Regions from separate parts of the Homo sapiens genome. Here region 1 is linked to region 2. Evidence: fine-mapped expression QTL. Tissue or cell type: whole blood. Region 2 holds a variant in brackets; the other region holds the start of a gene. All regions are shown on one strand. Distances are between the middles of the regions.

Region 1 (5,152 bases), 40 kb before region 2:
TATCGACTGTGGATGCTATCATGATGGGGGAAATGTAATCATTTTTCAGACTATACCCTTTTGTATGAAACCACTAGAAACTGTGTGTTTGAAATACAGAACTGTTTCTGAGCAGGGGCTGCTGGAGTCCACCAGGATTACAGTCATGACAAGCACTGTGTTTCCTGGGACGGTTTCCATCTCCGTCTGGGTGTTCCATAAGCCAGACTTAGAAACCTTTCCTGATTTATGGTTAGGAACACTGATCACTGTAGCCATGTCTCGTGGACTGGAGGCTAGGGAGACTCAACCCACAGAAACAAGGAGGCTGCTTCAGGAAACTCTAAGGAGAGGAAGGGTGGCATATAAAGAAGCCTTTGTGGGCTGGGAATAAGTTAGTTTTTCGTGAGTAAATTCATTCATCACCTAAAATGCTCCCAGAACTATGCAAGGTATTTAAGCAGCAACATCACAGCTCCAAAAATAAGTATAAAACAGAAGACATGGTCACTATCCTTCAGAAATCAATCATCTGTTTGAGGAGCTAACACAAAACAGTTAAAAAGTGATGCAAAACAGCACAGCAAATCAAGGACAGATGTGCCTGAACTAGACTGACCCTGTGCAAGGGAGAATCTTGAAAGTGTCTTTGATGTGGTGATTCAGGCCTGGTGGGATGAGAGCATGTGCAAATGTCCAAGCATCAGCGATGGACTGTAGTGATTCAGGACAGGTGTCTGAGAGGCCAGGACATGAGGCTGCATGGAGGAATGATGAGAGGTGGGAGCGATGGTATTCTGAGGTGGAAAGAGTTGTGTCCTGCAGGCGTCAAGGGATGTGGCCTCTGGTCCCAGTATCCCTTTGTGGGCACACAACTTGATCCTCACTGTGCTTACACCTGCTCCTCTGTAAAGCTAGGATGGACAAACTGATCTGGATGCTTTTTTTTCCAAACTCCACCTGCAGGACTGGGGCAAGTCTGTGATGATAGAGAAAAATGAGGACAAGATTGCAAGTTTTTCATAAATCTAAATTTATTAAATGTAAAGGACTGCCTTCATCTTTCAAGTTTAGCCTTTGTGCTTTTTCTTGGTATTAAAATGTCTTTCATTTTATGAAATAGTGACAGTGGATGGATTTTTTTAAAAAAAATGGCCTGACTTGGCAGCATAAAAATTTGGTTAGCATGATATCCTGTGTGAGGTCATCTCCCCCAGTTAAAAAAAAAAAACAAAAACAGTGCCAGTCAGCGAAGGACCAGGAATAAAAACTCTGGATGAGAGGCTCTTAATCAGGTTGTAGCAGTTTGTATGAGTTTGTATAAAGCTTGACAAGTCTACGTACCCAGGCTCCAGCCTATTCTCTGTGAGGCTGCCAGGCATTTTTGGACCTATTTGCTCTCCTGTTCAAAAACCATTAGGTGTAAATATCTTCACACTTCCCATCATAATCCAGCTCCAATCTCTCTCCACCTCTTGCAACTCTCAGTATCCTCCACTCCTGCCTCACCAGTCTTTTCTCCATTCCCCATAACTCTTCACATCTCCCTGCCTTTGCTTACGCTGGTTCCTCTGCCCCGGTGCTGCCCTTCCTCCAGCTGCCTGGCAAACTCCTATTCCTCTAGACACCCAGTGTCTAATGTTACCTTTCATTCTGAATTTTTCCTTAATCTGCCCCACTGCTTCCAATGAAATAACTGCTACCTCTTCTATGTTTTTGGCACTTTGCACAGATTTCTATTCCATGTATTTATGGAGTATTTACTTCTGCCATTCTGTCCTCCAAGACTGTGACCAACAGCACCTAGGTTGGTTTCTGTCCCTCAGATATTTACTGAATTGAAATACATTGTGTTTGATATTAATAAAAGAGAAACCATGTTTGATGTAAGCCTGGTCAAATAAACAAAGACAAGTTTACTTTTATGGTCTGAATCGCTCAGATTCAAGAAAGCCCCCTCCAACCCTCAAATTCCTTCTGCACTGTCTCACTTGTGCCTCAAATCCATCCCTAACGTCTCATTCCTTCACTTAAAGGTTACAATGTAAGAAGTTTATCAGATTCTTTCCCAAGCTCAGGCTTGATGGAAGAAAGGAGGGCGGGGACGCAGGCCTATGGGTGGGGTAGGGAAGGAGCCACTAGGCTGCAGAGAGGGCAAAAAGAGGCTCTGAGGATAGAGCCTGTCTCATTCTCAGTTGTCACAGGTTGGCTGAGGTCACAGGGAGTTCAGAGCACACTGATTTAAGAAGCCACCTGCCTGTGTCCTTCAAGATGTTTAGGATGGGAAATGATGGGATCAGTAGGGCATAGGTAATGCTCTCACAGCCCATAGAGAGATGTCTTCCTACTTAAGAAAAGGCAGTGACGTTCAGGCGCCTGGTCTGAGGTGCCTGGAAATACTCACCGGATGGCAGAGGCGAGGGCTAGCCGACTGGGTGGAGGGGGCCTGGGGATCTGCGGTAGGGAGTGGGACCCATCCCGGGGGCTGCGAGTGGAGGCGGTGCCTGCTTAGAGTGTTGGCTGGACTGGAAGAGCAGGCAGGGCGTGGGTCGGCTGTTGGGGGAGGAGTAAGGCGAGGGGAGCGGGGAGGTCAAGGCCTGAGCTCCCTGTGCCAAGGCCGAGGGCAGGCGCACCCTGGGACGAGGCCTCTGTCTTACAGGGACCTGCTCCCTTCGTGCCCGGGCTGGGGGACCCTGCAGCCCACCTCTGACTTGGCCCCGAGCCATTGGGGGCACTTTTCCAGACTTGCTTGGTGCCAGGACTGGATACTTTGGGAGATCCAGGCAGGCTCCGCGGAGGTTCACGCAGGCCGAGGGGGCAGACCCTGAGTGTGGGCGTGTGGGTGTGTGCATGAGCGTGGACCCGGAGCGACACACACTCACACACACACACTCACACGCCCGCACCCACGCAGGTCCCTCGGCCGCGCCGCCCCAGACCCTCACCCCAGAGCCGGGTCCTCCCTGACCACTGCTTCTCACTAACGCAGAGGGCAGGATTCGTGGGTCCCGGACGAGGCGCCAAGGTATGGTGTTCCCACCACCCCCGGGCAGCCGCCCCCGCGCTCGCCCGCCCCCCGGGGAAGGGGATGGGGACCGAGTGCCCGGGGCTCTTACCGCTCAGGCGGCCGAGTACGCGCGGGAGTGCCCAGCGGGTCCCGCCCCGCCACGTCTGCAGGGCCGGCGGGGACGCGGCCGGAGGGCGGGCGGCTGGAGAGGGGGCCCCGCCCCGCCTGCGCCCCGCCCCACGAGGAGCGCCGCGGGGACGCCCGGCCACCCCCACGCTGCGAGGGCCGGGCCCGCGCTGGGCGAGTCTCCTGGAAACTTGGCTTGTCCCACCCCTGTGCCAGCGCGGAAAGCCAGAGCGCGCCGCCTCTCCAGCCCAGGGCGGGTGGGTCTCGGGGTTCGCCAGATCCCTTTCCTTTCCTTAAAAGGGCTTGGAAAACCCCCCGCCGTGTCACTGGGAAGAGGTCGCTCAAATTCAGCTAAAGTTTGATCTCCTGATTCTGCGTTAAGCAGCACTCCCTTGCCCTGTCGGTGGGAGTGTGATAGATTTAAAACAAACAAACCCCAAACAAACAACGAAAACCCACTTTCCAGAAGGCCAGTTTGGAGCTGTGGGTTAAAACTCCGATGTATTAGCTTTGGCCTAGGAATTCCACATTTGTGAATTTGTCCTAAGTAGGCAGTCAAATGGGCAAATATGTATGTACAAGGATGTTTGTTGTAGTTGTTTCTGCGGGGGGAAGCCGGAGACAATCTCAATGTCCCCCAGTAAGATTGGTGAAGTAAGCTACAGTAACTTCAGACATCGAATATGTTGTAGCCCTTAAAAATGAGGATTCGTTGACATGGAGGGAAGGCCACATATGAAGGCCTTCCTCAAATATGGCTTAATATGAACTCAGATGCGGAGGAAGCGCAGTGTTTATAGTATTAACTAGTTTTGTAAACAATTTTGTATTTTCTATAAAAGTCGGAGGAAATACAATTTAAAAATAGTGATTCTTTCTGAGCGATGTGTTTAAGGCAGATTTTCTCCTCTCTCACTCCATCCCTTCTTCTTTTTGAAGAATTATAAATTCAAAGTTAAAGAAAAAATAGCCCTAGTCTCTCCCTTTCAATATCACTACCATTTTTTATAGTGTGTGGATCCTACCATAGTTTTTCTAAGCTTATATAAATACATGTATGCATAAACAGCTTTTTGTTTGCTTTTTTATAAAAATGGCGAGATGTTGACGTATTTTGTAAATTTCCCCCTATTTATTATATATTATAATCATCTTTCTTGGTCAATACATATCAACCAAAACCACTCTTCTAAGACTTGTCTTATATATTGCAATATGTTTGTAATTATATTTCATTCAATCATTCTCCTATTGACAATTAGTTTGCTCCTTATATTCCAGTTTCTTCCATATATATATTAATTAATTTATTAATTCATTTTTTTGAGATGGAGTCTTGCTCTGTCGTCCAGGCTGGAAAGCAGTGGCGTGATCTCAGCTCACTGCAGCCTCTGCTTACTGGGTTCAAGCAATTCTCCTGCCTCAGCCTCTTGAGTAGCTGGGATTACAGGTGCGTGCCACCACACCCGGCTAATTTTTGTATTTTTTAGTAGAGACGGGGTTTCACCATGTTGGCCAGGCTGGTCTCGAACTCCTGACCTCAGGTGATCCACCCACCTCGGCCTCCCAAAGTGCTGGGATTACAGGCATGAGCCACCGTGCCTGGCTATATTTCTTATTTAATATTTTTATTAAATATTTTTATATTAATAATTTTTTAAGCTACTGAATATTTATTTTATTTTATTTTTTAGGAGGACAGAGTCTTGATCTGTGGCCTAGGCTGCAGTGCAGTGGCACCATCTCCATCTCCTGGGTTCAAGCGATTCTTCTGCCTCAGCCTCTTGAGTAGCTGGGATTACAGGTGCGTGCCACCACACCCGGCTAATTTTTGTGTTTTCAGTAGAGACAGGGTTTTGCCATGGTGGCAAGGCTGGTCTCGAACTCCTGACCTCAAGTGATCTGCCCACCTCGGCCTCCCAAAGTGTTGGGATTACAGGCGTGAGCCACCACACCCAGCCTGTCATTTTTAAATTCATAGAAAAACCAGAAAGTTATCTTAATGTGAGAGTGGGTGGAAACTGCTTTAAATTGAGATCA
Region 2 (5,122 bases):
TCTTTCCATTTGCTTTTTGCAAGGTTTGTGTTATTTCAGGGCAAAACGTAGAGCAAGTCCACTGGCAAATCTGGGGGCTAGTGATTATTTTGTTTTGATTTTTATTTTTTTAAATCAGACATTTTAAACACTACAATGAGGTAACTCTAGAAATCAAATTCTGTCCCCCTTTCCCAGAGGTGTTTTATTTATTTATTTATTTATTTTTTGACAGGGTCTCATTCTGTCACCCAGGCTGGAGTGCAGTGGTGTAATCACAGCTCATTGGAGCCTCGACTTCCTCGGCCCCAAACAATCCTCCCACTCAGCCTCCCAAGTAGCTGGGACTATAGGCACACGCCACCATGCCCAGCTAAGTTTTGTATTTTTTGTAGAGATGGAGTTTCACTATGTTGCGCAGGCTGGCTTTGAACTCCTGGACTCAAGCAATCCACCTGCCTTGCCCTCCCCAAGTTCTGGGACTATAGGCTTAAGCCACTGTGCCGGGCCTCCCTTTCCCAGGGTGTATTGTTGCTTCTTGTGGCTTATAGTTGCTTGTTTAATGACTTTTCTAAATAATTTTTATAAAGATTATTCTTTGTCATGTGTGGCTATTACATTTTCTGTCCAGTTAGCTTAGTGGTCAGCCAGTAACTTGAGATTTCTTTAAACATCTGGAGCAAAAACAAAAACCAAATAAACTAGCAAAAGCAAAAACAAAAACACCCCTGATCTTTGCAGGTTGGCTGTGTTGGATCACTTTCTCAATGCTTAGCCAGTCTATTCACAGCTCTGCTTTAGCCTTCACTTTCTGCATGCATGGAAGCTAAAGATGAGCCAGAGGTGAAGTTTAGGATTTTCTCAGGTCTCCTCTGAACATGCGTCCAGCCTTGGGCACGTGAGTGGACTTCTGGACTCCCTGGTATATACAGAGATTTCCTCAGCCTTTTTTCTCCCACATATCTTTCTCCATATATCTTTGCATATTTCCCAGACTTTTTGATGTGTCTGCTGCTTGCCCCCTCTGTTAGCCCTTGCTCAGGTGGCTGCAGCTAGTATGTTTGCCTTTAATTGTTTACAGCAAACACCAGCCAGAAGGCTGTTCCAGCCCTGAGAAAGTTCTAAGGTGTACAAAACAAAGGCAAGCCCCTGAGTGTGAATCCCTCAGGCAGCAACCAGACAGGTCAAAACACACAACCACAATTCTTTGATAACAAGGCCTATATTGCCCCTTCTGGCATGAGCAAGCTATATAACTGGTTATAAAAAGTATTACATTAAATTATGGGGACAGAAATGACTCTACTAGTGAATGAAGAAATCATTTAGATTTTATGGTTAGTAAGTGGAGGTTTGAGAGTAACCATCCGATCTTTATTAATCTTAGTGTATATTATATTTCTAGAATTTGGACTCATATCAAGATGCTCTGAAGAAGAACAACCCTTTAGGATAGCCACTGCAACATCATGACCAAAGACAAAGAACCTATTGTTAAAAGCTTCCATTTTGTTTGCCTTATGATCATAATAGTTGGAACCAGAATCCAGTTCTCCGACGGAAATGAATTTGCAGTAGACAAGTCAAAAAGAGGTCTTATTCATGTTCCAAAAGACCTACCGCTGAAAACCAAAGTCTTAGATATGTCTCAGAACTACATCGCTGAGCTTCAGGTCTCTGACATGAGCTTTCTATCAGAGTTGACAGTTTTGAGACTTTCCCATAACAGAATCCAGCTACTTGATTTAAGTGTTTTCAAGTTCAACCAGGATTTAGAATATTTGGATTTATCTCATAATCAGTTGCAAAAGATATCCTGCCATCCTATTGTGAGTTTCAGGCATTTAGATCTCTCATTCAATGATTTCAAGGCCCTGCCCATCTGTAAGGAATTTGGCAACTTATCACAACTGAATTTCTTGGGATTGAGTGCTATGAAGCTGCAAAAATTAGATTTGCTGCCAATTGCTCACTTGCATCTAAGTTATATCCTTCTGGATTTAAGAAATTATTATATAAAAGAAAATGAGACAGAAAGTCTACAAATTCTGAATGCAAAAACCCTTCACCTTGTTTTTCACCCAACTAGTTTATTCGCTATCCAAGTGAACATATCAGTTAATACTTTAGGGTGCTTACAACTGACTAATATTAAATTGAATGATGACAACTGTCAAGTTTTCATTAAATTTTTATCAGAACTCACCAGAGGTTCAACCTTACTGAATTTTACCCTCAACCACATAGAAACGACTTGGAAATGCCTGGTCAGAGTCTTTCAATTTCTTTGGCCCAAACCTGTGGAATATCTCAATATTTACAATTTAACAATAATTGAAAGCATTCGTGAAGAAGATTTTACTTATTCTAAAACGACATTGAAAGCATTGACAATAGAACATATCACGAACCAAGTTTTTCTGTTTTCACAGACAGCTTTGTACACCGTGTTTTCTGAGATGAACATTATGATGTTAACCATTTCAGATACACCTTTTATACACATGCTGTGTCCTCATGCACCAAGCACATTCAAGTTTTTGAACTTTACCCAGAACGTTTTCACAGATAGTATTTTTGAAAAATGTTCCACGTTAGTTAAATTGGAGACACTTATCTTACAAAAGAATGGATTAAAAGACCTTTTCAAAGTAGGTCTCATGACGAAGGATATGCCTTCTTTGGAAATACTGGATGTTAGCTGGAATTCTTTGGAATCTGGTAGACATAAAGAAAACTGCACTTGGGTTGAGAGTATAGTGGTGTTAAATTTGTCTTCAAATATGCTTACTGACTCTGTTTTCAGATGTTTACCTCCCAGGATCAAGGTACTTGATCTTCACAGCAATAAAATAAAGAGC[G/A]TTCCTAAACAAGTCGTAAAACTGGAAGCTTTGCAAGAACTCAATGTTGCTTTCAATTCTTTAACTGACCTTCCTGGATGTGGCAGCTTTAGCAGCCTTTCTGTATTGATCATTGATCACAATTCAGTTTCCCACCCATCGGCTGATTTCTTCCAGAGCTGCCAGAAGATGAGGTCAATAAAAGCAGGGGACAATCCATTCCAATGTACCTGTGAGCTAAGAGAATTTGTCAAAAATATAGACCAAGTATCAAGTGAAGTGTTAGAGGGCTGGCCTGATTCTTATAAGTGTGACTACCCAGAAAGTTATAGAGGAAGCCCACTAAAGGACTTTCACATGTCTGAATTATCCTGCAACATAACTCTGCTGATCGTCACCATCGGTGCCACCATGCTGGTGTTGGCTGTGACTGTGACCTCCCTCTGCATCTACTTGGATCTGCCCTGGTATCTCAGGATGGTGTGCCAGTGGACCCAGACTCGGCGCAGGGCCAGGAACATACCCTTAGAAGAACTCCAAAGAAACCTCCAGTTTCATGCTTTTATTTCATATAGTGAACATGATTCTGCCTGGGTGAAAAGTGAATTGGTACCTTACCTAGAAAAAGAAGATATACAGATTTGTCTTCATGAGAGAAACTTTGTCCCTGGCAAGAGCATTGTGGAAAATATCATCAACTGCATTGAGAAGAGTTACAAGTCCATCTTTGTTTTGTCTCCCAACTTTGTCCAGAGTGAGTGGTGCCATTACGAACTCTATTTTGCCCATCACAATCTCTTTCATGAAGGATCTAATAACTTAATCCTCATCTTACTGGAACCCATTCCACAGAACAGCATTCCCAACAAGTACCACAAGCTGAAGGCTCTCATGACGCAGCGGACTTATTTGCAGTGGCCCAAGGAGAAAAGCAAACGTGGGCTCTTTTGGGCTAACATTAGAGCCGCTTTTAATATGAAATTAACACTAGTCACTGAAAACAATGATGTGAAATCTTAAAAAAATTTAGGAAATTCAACTTAAGAAACCATTATTTACTTGGATGATGGTGAATAGTACAGTCGTAAGTAACTGTCTGGAGGTGCCTCCATTATCCTCATGCCTTCAGGAAAGACTTAACAAAAACAATGTTTCATCTGGGGAACTGAGCTAGGCGGTGAGGTTAGCCTGCCAGTTAGAGACAGCCCAGTCTCTTCTGGTTTAATCATTATGTTTCAAATTGAAACAGTCTCTTTTGAGTAAATGCTCAGTTTTTCAGCTCCTCTCCACTCTGCTTTCCCAAATGGATTCTGTTGTGAGCAAGAGTTTATATGGCTTCATGGCAGCAAGGGAACAGTCAACTTCAGCATCATATGCACCAGTCCTCGGAGTGCCCTGTGAATCATATTGGTCTTTGGGTCAGTGTCATCATTCTCTTCAAGTCTGGGGCTTGGGGAAAAAATTAGATCAGCTACGGCATATAAAAAAGTCTTTTGTTTCACATATGTGTAATAGCTTATTTAATTTTTTATCCTGCTACACAAATATGTAATTAACCAATGAGGACTCATGACTTGATAGTGTATGTATGTAAAGGGATATATGGACTTAATCATAAGCTGTTGAGGTGAAAGACGTGGATCCACCTGCTTTCCAAGAAAACTCGGCCAAATTTATTTGCAGCTGGATATTGAATGGGACTTTTCTGGTTGTCTTAGAATTCTGGCTAAAGGCTCAAAGCTGACGAAAGACAGTAACTGCACCAACATGATACTAGACACAGCCAGTCTGGACTTATCAAAAGAGCAGAAAGAGACCAATGACTCCCAGTCCGTATTATCCATCTCTAGAAGACTAGAGTCAAAAGCGTGATTAAAGAGTCATTAAGCGGAGGTTCTAGGCCATAGGGAGATTGCTTTGAATTTCTTGCAGACAAGTGTGAGGGACTCAGCATGGTAGAAGGTAGCCTGGCATCCCACTCCAAGACTGAAAGCTTGCAGAGTAACAGGAGCACACAGGTTCAGTGCAGCAGATGTGGTGTGGCTTGAGAATTCTTGGAAGAGCTTGATGAGTGTTTGCTGGAGTCCGAGGGTGGGCACTGGGAACACAGAGACTGGTAAATAGTGTTTGGCAAATACAAGTGCTTGATGAATATTTGTTGAATGAATAGATGAGTTCTTCCCCCCTGGGGAATTCAGGAGGTGAAAGGTTGGCTTGAGCACCCAAAATGGCAGGATGAGAGAAGAGAAGCACTGATAGCAACCTGCCCTCCCATTATTGACATGGTAAAAGGATGTGAATTT

The links. PIP is the estimated chance that this variant, and not a neighbour inherited with it, causes the effect.
Region 1: it holds the start of FAM114A1, and the variant in region 2 is fine-mapped to the expression of FAM114A1 in whole blood (TOPMed, PIP above 0.99).

The regions. Positions count from the first base shown.
Region 1 is chr4:38,865,778-38,870,929 of GRCh38, reverse strand. It overlaps FAM114A1 (family with sequence similarity 114 member A1), which reads right to left and starts at 3,124. Exons shown (of 15, transcript NM_138389.4): 1 at 3,096-3,124; 2 at 2,384-2,532. It overlaps MIR574 (microRNA 574), which reads right to left and starts at 2,898; the gene lies at 2,803-2,898. It also overlaps a transcript of TLR6 not described here. RefSeq lists an enhancer at 1,990-2,573 and silencers at 2,781-2,830, 2,881-3,360.
Region 2 is chr4:38,825,800-38,830,921 of GRCh38, reverse strand. TLR6 (toll like receptor 6) reads left to right here. Exons shown (of 2, transcript NM_006068.5): 2 at 1,385-5,122. The coding sequence starts at 1,449. The coding sequence ends at 3,839. Among named protein-coding and RNA genes, the nearest start is that of TLR1, 24 kb to the right of the region's middle. The variant G/A (reference allele first, on the strand shown) is at 2,841.